Linked DNA regions of Homo sapiens. The protein of the gene in region 2 purifies or fractionates together with the protein of the main gene of each other region. This does not show direct contact. Each region holds a gene or a part of one and is shown on either strand. Other genes may lie near its edges.

The links.
Region 1: the proteins of FAM20B (region 2) and ASPHD2 purify together in Homo sapiens (co-immunoprecipitation; 3 studies listed by BioGRID and IntAct, with this or other methods). This does not show direct contact.

What each region holds. Positions count from the first base shown.
Region 1 is NC_000022.11:26,431,641-26,439,259, reverse strand, and holds part of ASPHD2 (aspartate beta-hydroxylase domain-containing protein 2), read right to left. Parts: intron 5,869-7,619; 5' UTR 5,645-5,868; coding exon 4,759-5,644; intron 1-4,758. UniProt on the Homo sapiens protein: May function as 2-oxoglutarate-dependent dioxygenase.
Region 2 is NC_000001.11:179,021,319-179,029,437, reverse strand, and holds the start of FAM20B (glycosaminoglycan xylosylkinase), read right to left. Parts: upstream 3,545-8,119; 5' UTR 3,340-3,544; intron 3,315-3,339; exon of another isoform or gene 3,250-3,314; intron 1-3,249. UniProt on the Homo sapiens protein: Responsible for the 2-O-phosphorylation of xylose in the glycosaminoglycan-protein linkage region of proteoglycans thereby regulating the amount of mature GAG chains.

The sequences.
Region 1 (7,619 bases), on a different chromosome or scaffold from region 2:
GCCCAGCTAATTTTTGTATTTTTAGTAGAGATGGGGCTTCACCATGTTGGCCAGGCTGGTCTCGAACTTCTAGCCTCAAGAGATCCACCTGACTCGGCCTCCCAAAGTGCTGGGATTACAGGCTTGAGCCACTGTGCCTGGCCTGATTGCTGATTTTCTTGTAGTTAACATGTCTGATAGTTAATACTGAGTTTCAACTTGATTAGATTGAGGGATACAAAGTATTAATCCTGGGTGTGTCTATGTGGGTGTTGCCAAAAGAGATTAACATCTGAGTCAGTGGGCTGGGGAAGGCAGATCCACCCTTAATCTGGCAGGCACAATCTAATCAGCTTCCAGCAAATATAAAGCAGGCAGAAAAACATAAAAAAGTGAGACTGGCCTAGCCTCCCAGCCTGTATCTTTCTCCAGTGCTCGAAGCTTCCTGCCCTCAAACATCGGACTCCAGGTTCTTCAGCTTTGGAAACTGACTGGCTTTCCTTGCTCCTCAGTTTGCAGACAGCCTATTGTGGGACCTTGTGATCATGTGGGTTAATACTTAATAAACTCCCCTTTATATATATATGTGTGTGTGTGTGTGTATGTATGTATGTGTATATATATATATGTATGTGTATATATATATGTATATATATGTGTGTATATATATATGTATATATGTGTGTATATATATGTATGTATATATATGTATGTGTATATATGTATGTGTATATATGTATGTGTATATATGTATGTATATATATGTATGTATATATATGTATGTGTGTATCTATATATATGTATATATATGTGTGTGTGTATATATATGTATATATATGTATGTGTGTATATATCTGTGTGTATATATATATCCTATTAGTTCTGTCCCTCTAAGAGGACCCTAATATGTTTCAACTCTCAATAGTACATTTCATTAAATCAGCTGAGACTGCTCATCCTGACAGAAGCCATGATTTCCCACTATGGTTAACAGCAGCTGGGGGAGTCAGGGCTGTAAAGACGCCCAGATGGAGGGACTCAGAGGCTACGTTTTCCTTTGGCGTGTGCCCCTACTGGCTGGTTCAGGTGGCGAAGGCCTTTAGGAATGGGCAGTTCTCTGCAGGGACAGCCACCCCGGGGTTTCAGAAAGAAGCTCCCCTTTCTCTGGGCCACTAAATGATTCATCGCCACGTGCCACGGTGCGATAGAAAAATGGCCTGGCCTGCTGGCTTGACACCCCCCTGCTTCTTGTTCTCCGCCTCCCCTTCATTCTGCTCCTGCCCCCATTCCTGCCTGTTGCCCACAAACCAGCTTAGTTGGCAGAAGAGCTCAATTCTTCCCTAAACAGATCATTCCAGTGGCTCTTGAGGACAGTGACAGGTCCCACACATGGCCTCAGATAGTCCCATATGCTCCTCTATGGCTCAAGCTTTGCTGCTCTGTCCCTACCGAGCCCTGAAAGAGGCAGGAAGGAGGGTAGAGAAAGGGCTGTGTCCACCAGTGGCCCCCACTTCAGGCGGCTGGCAACCGGGCACTCAGGGTGGGCAAGGGGAACATGAGCTGATCTACTGTTACCACCCGGCTAGACCACCTAGAAATCTGATGACATGCAGAAAAGAAAAACAAGAGTCTAACTGTGCTTCTTTAGCTAGAATTTGCTGAACATATTCATGCATTTTCATGAAGTATCTGCCTCCCTGGTAACATCTGCCTGGTGAGTTTCAGAGGTGGTTTTCTGGAAGTTTGTGGCAGTGCATCTGGAATATCCCAGCATTGTGTACGATGCTGAGTGGGGGGTGGGCCTGAAGCTGTCCTGTGGTCCCATATGAAGTCGGGACTAGGTGATGCCACCTCTAGAAGTAGCTCACAGCAGGGCTCAGCAAATATGTCTCGAACAAATGGGCTGTGTTAGTGAGGAGCAGTGGCTGGGTCTTCAGTGGTCCACAGGGACAATTCCATCAGTCACAGCTCAGGCAGAAGGCAGAAGAAAAGCAAGCATTGGCATTTCAAGAGCACGGTTCTGGAACTGCAGGTGCCTCTACCTTCAGCCAGGTAACCAGCAGAGGTGTGGCCACCAGGTACGCACCAGGCTTATCCTGCTTCTGACCTCATTCTCTGGACTCCCTCTCTGTCAACACACAAGGTCACATAAATCCGACACACCTTTGTTTCCTTCCTGGGTGGATATTAATGTGGGCATGATAGTGTAAAGAAGGAAACGCTGAGAAAACCCAACCAGGGAGCTCGCCTTGGCCGTGGAGAACAAGCCACGCCACAGTGGGACGTCTTCCAAGAAGGTTTCCTGCTATCTACAGGAACATGGAGGGCCTACTTTTTCTGGCAAGTACCTAGCTGGGCTGAGAAAGGAATGACAGGCCACAGGCCACAGTGTGAGCCAGCGTGGGCATGTTTTACACACACACACACACACACACACATGCATGCATATCATACAGATGAACAACAAGTGTTAATCTACAGAAAGCAAACCCCAGATTTTCCTTGCTACCATCACTTCCTACTCACACCTCTTTGAAATTCTACCACATCAGTCCTCAAATGCCCTTCCCCAGATGTCATTCTGAAGTTTTAAAACAATACATAAAGGCAAACCTTTCAAAAGAAGAGCATCACTCCCCATTGCCCACGGCCTCCATTCTCAAGCCTGGCATCAAGGGCCTCTGAGGTTTGCTCCCACCTGACCTGTCCAACCTCAGCCCACACTACTGGCCTCCCCAGCAAGCCTAGACCCGGCTTCCCCAAGCCCCAGGGGATGATTCCGCTCCCTCGCTCCACCCTGGCGGCACCTGATTTCTGTGTGGGGATCCTCCAGTGTCAGACCCACCTCCCCAGGGCACCCCGTCTGCAGCCAAGTGAGGCTTGGGGCCTCGCACAGCAGTTTTGCTAATGACCATCACCTGGATTATCATCCCATCACTTAGATTAGCTTACTGTCCACTGCCCTCTACCTGCCAAGCATTTTACACATATTACTTCCCACTCCTCAAAACAGCCAGCAAGTGGGAATCGTCATCTCTGTTTTAGAGAAGATAAAACGGAGGCTTAAGGAGGTTCAGAGCCCTGCCCAAGGTCACTCAGCAAATGGGGCGAGGCCAGGACCTGAGTCCAGATCTGTTTGCTTCCGAAGCCTGTTCCTTTCCCACTGTTTCCTGGGGGCAGGGTCTATGTCTTATGGATCATTTTTCACATGGTCCAACACAGTCCTTGATAATAGCTACTAGCTCCCATTCATCAAATGCTGTCACGTGCCAGGAATCCTGCCAAGGGGCCATGTAAGATGCCACTCATTGAATCCTCTCAACAATCCTGTGAAGTAAGTACCATCTCCCCATTTTACAGATGAAGAACTGAGGCAGAGAGAGACTCAGTGACCTGCTCAAAGTCTCACGGCTGACTGCTGACCAGGAATTCAGGCCACCTCCCCCAAAGCCTCCACCCAGTCCGCCCTTTACTCTTGAAATTCCTACCATGTCAATTGCTCAAATCTCATTATATTTTTCTTTTCTTTTCTTTTCTTTTCTTTTCTTTTCTTTTCTTTTCTTTTCTTTTAGTGCAGTGATATCCTCCATCCAAACCACATCTTACTCAGAACCCCCACACAGACAGCAGGAGAAGCAGAGCTGCTGAGGGTGAAGAGGGCTCGGGGGCCCCCAGCTCCGGCTCCTTCCCAGGCAGCCCTGAGGCTCCTCTGCAGAACGTGGTTATGAAACTCCCACTCCAACCCATGCACCAGGTTCCTCCTGCTGCTCTTCCTTCCTCCCTACTGAAGCTGAAGCAGCGTTGTGAACTTTGTAAAGCTGGACGCTGCCAAGGCTGTCTCTGCACACTCTAATCTGAGATACTAACCGGTGATGCCACCATCCCAGAGACGAGCTTTTTATCGCCACTCACCAGGAATAAGGCATTCTGGGGAACTAATACCTCCATGATTAAGTTGTTTTAAGCCTACTTTTATTGAATACTTGCTCTATTTTAGGCTCTGTGTGCATACATACAATACACATTATCTGATTGGATCCTCAGAATAACTCTTTAGGAGAAGATCTTTTTACCTCCACTTCCCAAATAGTGAAATTGAGGCTCAGAGAGGTGAAATGACTTGCCTACAGTAGCACAGCTCGTGGTGGGGCCAAGATGCAAACAAAGGCTGTCTAACTCCAGTCTTTGTTTGCAAAACCACAGCCGCACACACAGTACGCATACGACCAATTTTCTCAGAATCGGAGTAAAACAAGCTTATCACCAAGGATCATTTCATCCTTGATGACTGCAAAGATGCTTAAGTATCTTTCACAGCCTCCTGGACATCATTATGAAGCTCGGTAATCATTTTAACAAGTCTTTGGCTCTAGAACGACACTGTCCCCATACGGTAGCCACTAGCCGTATGTGTCACTGCTATTTAAATTAAATTAAAATTTAGTTCCTCAGTTACAGGAGACAAGTTTCAAGCACTCAATTAGTCACATGTGTCTAGTGGCTACCATTTTGGACAATGAAGATGGAGAACATTTCTGTCACTGCAGAAAGTTCTTTGCACAGAGCTGCTGTCAGAAATTAGGTTTGCACTGATCACAAGATTTCTTTTTGACTCAATCTCTGCTGTCAAATTGTTTACATGCAATTCATCAGTTTTTGCTAAAAGTGAACAATGCGAAAAGGCGCAATTCTGACCATTTGAGCTTTCGCGATGTTTTGATGGAGAGGGGCTGAGCTTGCAAATGTGCATGCCGGGAGACCCCTGTCCTTGCAACATACCTAAATGGCATCGGATGCGGATGTTGGTGGGTCCATAGTGCTCCGTTATCACAGTCCCAGGGCTCAGCACAGAGATGCACGCGTTCCCAAAAACATTGTTCCCAATACAGGTCCGAAGGCTTCCGAGCAAGCGGTACGTCCGTGGGCACTTCCTACAGTTCCTGGGAACACAAACCCCCTGATTGACCAAGTAAAAGGTGAACCACTCCCCGCTGGGGGTGCTGTTCATTTTCCATCCTTGCGGGAGGCTGCAGTTTGAGAAAGCTTTGTAGAGGGTCTCAAACTCACACAGGATGGTCTGGAAGTTCCGTTCCAGCACTTCCACATCATGTTTCTGTGCGTCCCGGGAGAAATAGGGCGTGGTGGGCAGGTCGGGCAGGAAGAAGACCTCGGGCTTCTGGATGGAGGGCCGGCTGTTGAGGTACCGGCCCTGCTCGCGGATGCCCTTGTGGATGCGGCCCATGCCGGACCAGGAGTAGCGCTTGGCGTACTCCTGCAGGTTGTGGTACAGCTTCTGGTTGAGGCCCTCGTTGTGGGTGCAGCGCACGCACTCAGGGGACTGGCAGTACACGTAGCCATTCTGCAGCCCGTTGGCATCGGCAGCCTGCATGAGGGAGTTGACGGAGACGTAGGGCCGGGGCTGCTCCCTGCCCACGTGATAACAGTACCACACGAAGAGGACCAGGAGGCAGGCCACAGTGATGACAGCGGTGGTGTCGCAGTCCCGCACGGACTGGATGCCGGTGGCGATGCAGTCCCTCAGGCCATCCAGCGACCAGCTCCAGGCCACCAGCCACTCGAGCGACATCTTGGGGGAGTCCTTACTGGGCGTGTGAAGCAAGGTCAGACAATCAGTCCTCGGGGGTCCCAAGGGCGCCCACACCATGCAGATTAGCGTGGGGGGGAAGGAGCGGCTGGGGCAGGGGGAGGCATGGCTGCCACCGATCCTCAGATACTGCCAGGGGCGGCATTGATGAACGACAAGGTTGGCCGTGCCCACTGCTCCACTTTCCGGCAAAAGTCACTGCAGTGGGGTGGAAGAGGCTGGTTTTTGTCACATTATCAAGTGCCGTCGGTCCCTGTGAAAGGATTTGTTTAGGAAAACCAAACCTGGGATGGAAAAAAAAAATCAGCATAAATTTTACACCTGGAAAAGTCCTCAACTGAAATGTAAAGTGTTAGATCGTTCTGTAGGATCCTAGTTGGTGGGGGTCACACTTTGCAATCTTGTGTATTCCCTCCCCATTCTACTGCCACTCCCATTTCCCAAAAGGCCAGTAGTATTTCATCTGCATCAGGTACTGCTTATAATTACAGTGGTCCCATCTGCTTTGTGCCCTCCATAGGAGGTGCTATTATCCCCATTTTACAGATGAGAAAACTGAGGCTCAGAGAAGTTACATAACTCACGAGAGTTATACAGCCAGGGCAGAGACTCAAACCCCATCTGACTTCAAGGCCCATGTCTACCCATTTTGCTGTGCTATTTCATCATAGGTATTTAATCAATGCTTATACTCCTGTGATCGCTGTACCTTTAATTCAAAAGAATCCTGGATTCAAAAGCATCTTAAAAATGGCAAAGGGACTTAAAAACTGCATATTCTCCATTTCACTTTCTCTTTGCAAGCATTTCATCATCCTTATTTCATTCTGTTGCCCTTCTGACAGAGGTTGGGCTAATACCAAGTTGGAAGAGGAAGTAGGCACTCTTGAGGTCATGCCTGCGGCAAAGGGCATTTTCTGTCTACCCACCTGGAGACTACCTATGGTCTCACCCATAGGGTCATGAAAGGAAAATGAGGGAGGTAGAATGAAAATAAAAGCCCTTCCAGGCCTCTGCCTCAGTTTCCCACAGCTGACAGCATCTCCAAAACAGCCAGAAGTGCTTTGCCACTTACCTAGCTGGGGGTTAGGGACAGAGCCCGGAACTCTCATTGTCCTAATAACCTAAAAGGGCCTGAATGTCATGCTGCCTAAGTCTCTCAAACCCCAGCCGTGTTTCCCAGCATTCTCCAAAACCTTTTGTTCATCCTGCTTCTTCTAATACAATGAGAACAGCCAGGTCTCTGCTTCTACAAGTCTGATACTCAGGGAGCACAATTTCAAATATCCCTTTTGTACTCTACCCTCTCACAGCTTAAAAAATGGAAAAGTTGTACCCTCCCTTTACCCAGGGACTGAAATTTGGCCTGAAAATTCTTGCAGCATCGTAGCAGAGAGAAGCCAGATTAGAGATGGGCCCAGTTGAGGATTCATCCCAACCTTGGGCAGATCGCTTTTCCTAAGCCTGTTTCTTTTCTTTTGAGACGGAGTTTCACTCTTATCGCCCAGGCTGGGGTGCAATGGTGCAATCTTGGCTCACCACAACCTCCACCTTCCAGGTTCAAGTGATTCTCCTATCTCAGCCTCCTGAGTAGCTGGGATTACAGGCATGCGCCATCACACCCAGCTAATTTTGTATTTTTAGTAGAGATGGGGTTTTTCCATGTTGGTCAGGCTGGTCTTGAAATCCCAATCTCAGGTGATCCGTCCACCTCAGCCTCCCAAAGTGTTGGGATTACAGGCGTGAGCCACTGCGCCTGGCTGCCTCAGTTTCTTTATCCATGAAATGGGGTTCGTGTTCATCTCACTGGATGAAGATGAATGATGGCGGATGGACAGCACTTACGACCACGTCATAATGAGCACCCAATATATGCAGGCGACGGCTAGGATGGGTGGCATCCCATAATGAGTAGCCAGCGTTCCAAAGGTGGGGCACGAGAGAAAGGTATAGCAAGACTCGGAATTCCAACAGTTAAAGGTAAATCCTGGACACTCTTGTTGCCTCATGTATTGAGTGGCTTTTTTGTCCCCAG
Region 2 (8,119 bases):
GAGATCTTTGCATTATTTTCTCTTCTAGGCAGCTCGAGCAGTCATGCTGACATTGTAAGTTAGTCAGAAGCTGGTTTCAATAGCAAAGTAAGCTTCTGTTCTGCAGCCCAGGCCTATGTTAAAGAATTCATTAGTACTTGGGGTTACAGAGACAGCTGAAGGAAAACAGGAAGATATATGTAGGTGTAGAAGAAGGAACTGCTGGAGAAGTACTCTTAAAAAGGGATAACTCCCCTCTTCCACCGTCAAAATAAGGGACAAGGGCAGTCAGGTCAATGCTATTGACATGGCCATTGCCAAGAGCTCTAAGTTCTTCTATTAATGCAAAAACACTGGCTATCAATCCAACTGCCCAATTAGCCTAGCCAGAACAGACTGTAGGAGCAAGGTTGTGAAGCTGCACTTGACTGGAACCTGCACAGGCTACTGCCAGGCTCCAGGTGGTTTAGAACACCATATAATCACAGAAGCAAATAACACACCTCTACAGAATATTTTGAACAGTAATCCGAAACACATTTTCTACGCTTTTTTTTTCTTTTGACAAAAAGAGGAACTAAATAATTTAGTATATACATTAGAATATTTCCCCTTCCCTCATACTGTTTTCCATTTATTCATTCAACTGACGAATATTTATTGTGCACCTTCTACATACAGGCACTGTCAGGTGCAGAGAGAAAAATACACAGATACACAGATTACTGTAACAATTACAACAAACTGTAGGGCCTCATTGTAACTGTGTTCCCCATCCCAATCCACAAAACCACCTGGCACTTAGTCCCAGAAGGACTAAGAGTCAGATTCAGAAGACAGTCTCCTTCTGTTGTTGTTGTTGTTTGTTTGTTTGTTTTTTGAGACGGAGTCTCACTGTCAGCAGTCTGGAGTGCAGTGGTGCAATCTCAGCTCACTGCAACCTCTGCCTCCTGGGTTCAAGCGATTCTCCTGCCTCAGCCTCCTGAGTAGCTGGGACTACAGGCGTGCACCACCATGCACAGCTAATTTTTGTATTTTTAGTAGAGACGGGGTTTCACCATGTTGGCCAGGATGGTCTCAATCTCTTGACCTCGTGATCCGCCTGCCTCGGCCTCCCAAAGTGCTGGGATTACAGGCATAAGCCACCGCGCCCGACCAACTGTCTTTTTATGTATTCTTACAGAATACAAAGAACGCCCTCCTGCTTCTGTTATGAGATTGTGGCAATCACCAAAAGACAACCTCTGTGGTTAGCTATTTTAAAAAGTTATCAATTCAACAGCTGAAGTATCTGGCTTTAGGGTTTTACACTAATGAAATGATTTTAGGGTTTTACACCAATGAAATGATAGACACACAAAGTGTGGGAAGCTGAAGTCTGCCCTAAAACTGAAGGAACAGAAAGTTTCATTTAGGAATTTAAAATTCAGAAGAGATAAGAAGCAGAAACTTTAAGGCTGTGTGAAAGGGCTGGAATCTACAAATGGAAATCAAGGGAATGAACTAAAAGTCAAGGAATTATCAATTTAACATAAAATACTTCCATGATATAAAAGATTATAAAAATAAAGATGATAGAAGCAGTGATGTGTTTTTTCTCTAATCTTAAGAACCAAAAAGAAAAGCAGTGTATGTGTTTTCTAGTTTCCATTCATTCACCAAAACATAGCTACTGTCCTACCAGTTCTAGAGAAACGAATAGAGCATACCAATGTCACATTTTCACCACACAGAAAAGAAACGCTGTGAACTCCAAGATGTCTTGATCATCTTTTACCTGTATCCATATTTATCACTGCACTTTATCATGAGTGAGGCTGAGAGTCTGAATTATACTTGTGTGTGCCTTTGTATTCTCCTTTGATAAGTAATTTCAAATGGGAAAGGGACTCCTGCTGACTGATTCCATTGTACGGTTCGAGAGGCCAAAGTCCAACATCTTTGCAAACTTTAGAAAAGTTATTAATAGAATACATTGATTTTAAATCTCCCTGAGATTGGCTATGAGTCTGGGCAAATAATTTAGCATCTTTACCATTTGTACCTCAGTTTCTCAGACAGTCGTGATAACGAATCATATTTGAGGAAGTGCTCTAAGCTTAGCTCAAAGATCCTGCATAAACTCAAGGAATGTTTGTAATACATAAGAACACTGAGATCTCTAACCAGATTTTTAGAAATCAACGCCAGTGAAATTTTTGCAAGAATTTACAACGCAAAAAACATAGGCGTGGCTAATAAATGGCAATAGTAATTTGTACCAGATTATAGATTTATAAAGTCCTACAGTTTAAAGGCTAAAGGCTAAAAAAAACCCCACATTCCTACTTCCCTTCCAAGTGAGAAATCAAACCTCCAGAGGGAAGCTGGCTGGGTGGGGAAGATGCTGATATCTGGCACTAGACCCAAGTCGCAATAGCAAGCAACTCTCATTTTCCCAAATTAGAAACTCCTTATCCATCCCAATGATGGTATGGTCTTTAAAAGGACTAATAATTCCATTAAGACTAACCAAGCCCTGTTACCCCTACTTTCCCTCCAATCCATCCTTCTACCCCTTCTCTTCTTATCCGGAGACTGGCAGGTTAACAGAAGTCAGATTAGAATGAATCTCTTATCAGAACCCACAATCAAGGACGCAGCTCGACAACTATTCACATTCATCATTAAGGGAAACGTATCGGTCCGCTCTTAATCGCGGGGCCGTCACACCCGGAAATGAAATCTCAAGCGCAGCCCACTGAGGGCTAACACAGCATTCGTTAAGTTGTGCCCTTCTGCGAGCGCCCGGCGCAGGACCCCAGGAGACCGCGGGCCCCGGGCACGGTTGCCCCGCCTTCCGCCTCCGGCCTGCAGGTCACTCGCGCTTCCCGGCCACGAGGCGGGCCCAGCAAAGACCCCGCGAGGGCGCGCTCCCTGGGCTGCCTCAACGGGCGCTCCGGGGAACACAAGAGAGGCACCGGGGCCAATCGCCTCTGGGGACCGCGCAAGGGGACGAGAGACGGTCACTAGAAGGACCTCTGGCAGCCTGAGGCGGCCCCAGGTGGGCCCGCGCCTCAGGTGGGCCAGGGACGTGGCGGCCGAGGCCGCGTCCCTTCAGCCGCGACCGCACACAGGGACACGCGGCCCGAGCGGGTCTCCCAGGAAGCCTCGGGCCCTCGCCCGGGACCCGCCCGCAGCCACTCGGGGACGGCTCAGGGCACCCGGTGCCCGGCCCCTCAGGGAGGCGCCCCGCCCCCAGGCGGCCCCAGCCCGGCGCGCGCTACGTACCGTGCCCCGCCCGCGTGCCGGTCCGCATTTTCCCGCCCGCCGCGCCGGGGGCGGGGGTCGCGCGCCCTCCCCCGCCCCCGCGCCACTCACCTGTCGGGCCCTAGGCTCGCTCCATGGCCGCCCGCGCGGTGCGGTGCGGCGCGGCCCCGGCCGCCCCCGCCGCCTCCGGGGAGGGGCAGCCCCACGCCGCGCTCACCGCCCCCAGCCGCCGCCGCCGCCACAGCGGCTCCGGCCCACCCCCGGCCCGGCCATTCCCAGGCCACCTCTCGCCGCGCAGAGCGGCAGTCCCACACCCACCCCCCCGCCTCCGAGGCCCCCGGCTGTTGGTACCGTCCTAGCGTAGCGCCTGCCCGACGGCCAATCCCAGCGCTCGCTCGGCGCGGCCCCGCCCCCGCCCAGTAGGCGGCCCCTACCGGACCCGCTCCGGACTGCCCCCCTTAACCTCTTCCATACCGGGCCCGTCCGCTTAACTCCCTCGGCGCCGGCGCCGGTCTCCTGCCGGCCGCGCCGCCCTGCCCGCTTACATAAACTGGCCTCTCACTTCTCACTTCCTTCGCTCTTTTTTCTTTTTCTGTATTTGTCCTCCATCCCCCACCCCGTCTTCTCTTTTTCTTTCCTGCTTTTCTTAGGTAGGTAGGCAGCCAAGCAGCAGGACTGGAGAGTTGCGGTCCCCTAGGTCGAGTTCTGTTTGTGAGAAGCATTTTCCCTCCTCCTGTTGCCTTTTTAATTTGCCTTGACTTCTGCTCGGAACTTCTGCCTATCTAAATGTATCCCCCGCTTCTTTTGCCCAGAAAAAGGCTAGCCTTTCCACACTGAGTGCAAATGGCTCTTCATTCGGACCAGAGCGGAGCGTCCTGCTACATACTTTCAGGAGCATCTCACAAAATTATGATTCATTTACTGTAATATTAGTTGTTTTACATCTGTTTTTTGCTAAGGACCGTAAGCCCCATGAGGGCAGGTCAGTCGCTCCTGGGTCGCCAATGCCCGACCGTAGTGCACCCAGTGGGCGCGGATAAATCGTGTGAATGAAAGATTCTGCCTTCCCTTTGTTTGCTTTCAGCTGACTTATACAGAGCCGCCACTGTGTCCATCCATTTATTCACCATATACTAAAGCGCAAACTTAGTGTGCCTGACCCTGAAATATAATGCAGGTTACTCCATGGAATAAGATGCGTGATGGGGAAAGACTGAGCTGACACTTTTTCTTCAGGCCACATAGTTCATTTAATCAGTAAGGCGTACTGAACAGAATTCTTTCTTACTGGCTGTATGATACTGGATGTGCCAGTTAACTTTGCTGAGCATCAGTTTCCTTAACTGGAAAATGGGAGTTAATAACTTCACAGGGTTGTTGTAAGGATTAAGTTAGGAAATGTATGGGGAAAGTACTCTAAGATTATTGTGTATGATTAGGTGTTATTCGTCTGTATATTTGCTGAGCATTTACTATCAGGAGATCCTAGAGAAATAATTGGGCTTGACACTTGCTCCGGACAATGTAGTTAGGGAGGCAGCATTAATCACTGCAGGAGACGTACAGTCAAATGCAGAAGGCATTGTATTAGCTTTTTGCTGCGTGTAGTTGAAAAGGTTTGGAGGTTTGGAGGTCGTTTTCTGGCCGGAGAATACATAATTCTTGGGAAAATGAGCTGGAAGATAATGAGAATCTACCTTATTTCTCTGCACAGGAAGATCAGTCTGCCTGCAGTTAGCTAATCTCCCTGAACCTTGCTCACTACATCAGGAGACCATAAAGCAAAAGGGTAAATCAACAGTTCCTTTAAGACACTTTATCCAAAAGGATTCTCCTTTCTTGCCTGTAACTCTGACAAGGACAGTGAGGGTGAACGCTCCAACTGTCACTGTTCAGGAAAAGGCCAGCTTATCCTGCAGCCTCAGCTTCCTGGGCGGATGATCCCTTCTGTCTTTAAGGATTTTCAGGTGAGGGCAGGGGGCAGTCATTGCCTCTCCAAGCAACCCACTTCAGTGCTTAATTTCGCATCCATCTATCCATCCCACATACTGCAGGACAGACACACTTCCTCCTTTTCTGTCCTCAGAGAAGGAGAGCTATGGGTTCAGGGCCTCTCTGTGAAAGGCTTTCAGACGACAAAATTGTTCTGCCCCCCAGTTTTCCCTTCTCCATGTTGCATTACCCAGGCCCTTGTTGAGTGTATGCATAGCACCAGCACCGTGCCTGACACTCCATGATGTCAGTTTCTGCCCCCTCCGCCTGTACGGGATTATTTTCCAACCAATCAACAGTCAATATATTCTAAGTATTGTGAGGGATGCAATCATTTAAGAAGGGCGTTTACATGACTAGCACACAGGAAGCAGCTGCAAGGAATAGGGACACTTAAATTATGCAGCACAGACTCTGTGATCACTGAAAGAATCACAGTCCAGGAAAACAGTGTGGGCTGGTATTGAGGTGAGCAAAATACAGGTAGGAGAAGAGAGGAACAATATGAACCAAAGTTAGGCAGTGCTCTGTGAACTTACAGCCGCCATCTTCAGCAGATCCTGCGTGACAGGAGAATTGTTCATTTGTTTGTTTATTCATTCATTCACTGATGCATACATTCATTCATTTAATGAATGTCTACCAAGTGCCAGGCACTGAGCTACCAGACCATGCAGAGATGAAGAAAGCCTGGTTCCCATTCTTGAGAAGCTGGCAGGAACCCCAATTAAGGAGGTCTGAGCACTTTGTCAAGACTCTTGTGATGCTCCTTTTACCACTCATACGATGTATGGTTCTACATGTCGTTGTCTAATCTCCTCTTTGCCCTTCTTCCTTGTTCCCAAACTGCAAGGATTTTTAAAGACATACACTATTTCATCTTTATTCCCACTTGTAGAGTGCCTCATACGAAGTACCTTCTCCACATTGATGTGTTGAAGCTCACTGAGTTAAAACCAGAGCAGGAATTTGGCTGTCCCCCTCCAGCCAAGGGTGGTAGGCATCCTTAGCAGAAGGATGGATATTAGCCCCAATGTGGAACCCCAATCTTGGAATTAGCCCCAGTGTGGAACCCACCAGAGGCTTGTCCGTGGCCTGCGGAATTCAATAGGGACACCTGTGCTTGGCATTTACTGCCATAGTCACCTTTTCAGGACCATTTTCTGCTAATTCCTTATCCTCCAACCTAAGGGGCTCACTTGCTGTCCTTTCCCTGCCCTCATGGTTGTGATCACATTGATTCTTCCTCCAGGAAATCCACCTCACTCCCACCTGTAAAAATGTTATACAGCTCTCAGTGCTGCTTGTTCATGAAGCCTTTCATAGCCTTCCCAACAACTGCACATGCTTTCCTTGGCTTCTGAGACCCAGCACTTTATTTGTAACTGTCTTGCGGTGGGGTGTATTGAAGTCTTTGGGGATCTGTCTGACCCCGTTCCCCGGGTTGTATTGACATCTGCGTCTTCTGTAGCACTAACACTGCACATGGCCCATGGTAGCCATGCAATGCTTGAAAGGAAGGTTTGAGAACATGTACTACAGAGCAGGGAATTGAGCCCCAGAGACTTATTTCTTGGTTCCTTCATCATTGTAAGCATTTTCCTTAAACTGTTTCAGAATTTCCAAGTCTCTGCCAATTTGTCAAGCCCTAGGACTCCAATAACAGTCCAGCAATCCCAAGTTAGAAGGAGGATATTGTCTCAAGGTGCTTTTGCATACACGAAGGCAAAATATATATGCATACACGCGCGCGCGCACACACACACACAGAGTTTCTTTTAACCTAGGCAACACAGCCACCATGATGGATCCCTCTGAAACTAATTAAATTAATTCTACATCAAGCAAGTCGAGAGGAGCCCTAGGAAAGCTCACGCTGTTCCAAGGTGCCAGGAGCCTGGGGAGAGGGTGACGGGAAAGGCTAGCGAGTAAAGGAGCACACATATCTCTCTGTTTCCTTCCAGGAGCATGTGCCCTGCCTCAGCTGCTTCCCAGGCAGGTTTGTTCTCTGCATTGGGCTGTCTGTGGACAGCTGCTTCTGCATTTCTTTCCTAACAGGGAAAACTCCTTTCTTTCATTTTGCCACCAGATCTGCAGAGCTACTCCCAGCCCGCCTCTTGCTTATAGCAACGGACTGCCCACTTACCCCATCACGTGGCACCCCTGTCAATGCCATCTGAGCAAACAACTCACGTCCCAGGGACAGCATCATAAGCTACATACATACACAGCACACCCAGCTTCTCTGCTGAGACATTCGGGCTGTGGATTCTGAAAGTGGTGGGAATATTTCGGTTATTTTTTCACTCTAGCAATATTATTTTTAAGAAAAGCTTTATTGAGATATACATACCACAAAACTCACTTGCTTAAAATATACTCAGTGCCTTTTAGTATATTTACAGAGTTGAGCAACCACTAACATAATCTAATTTTAGAACATTTTCATCACCCCCAAAAGTAATACGGGATGTTTTCTTTTTTATTCTGAAAATATATTTACCTATTTATTTTGTTCTTTAAATCTGCACAGTAAAAGCAAAAAGAAAAATACATTAATGGATATGTTAGATTTCTAGAGTTAGTAAGAAATGCAGAGGAGTTATGGCTCTCAAAGCTGTGTATCACTTAACTGTCATGTATGGCTATAGAAATTTGTTTAACTACCCCAAAGTGTACACTTTGTTGTGGCATATACGCTTCAGTAAATGTCCAGGGCCACATCTTTGACATTTTCCAGTTTGTTATGAATTTCTCTAATGCCACATATGGCTTTTCAAGGGATTGGGTGGAGAGAGAATTGCAAATTCCAGATTGCTAATTCCCACAAGGTAATACTTTTGTAATATGCCTAGGATGGTACCACAGGCATATTGGTATTTAACACACATTTTTTTTT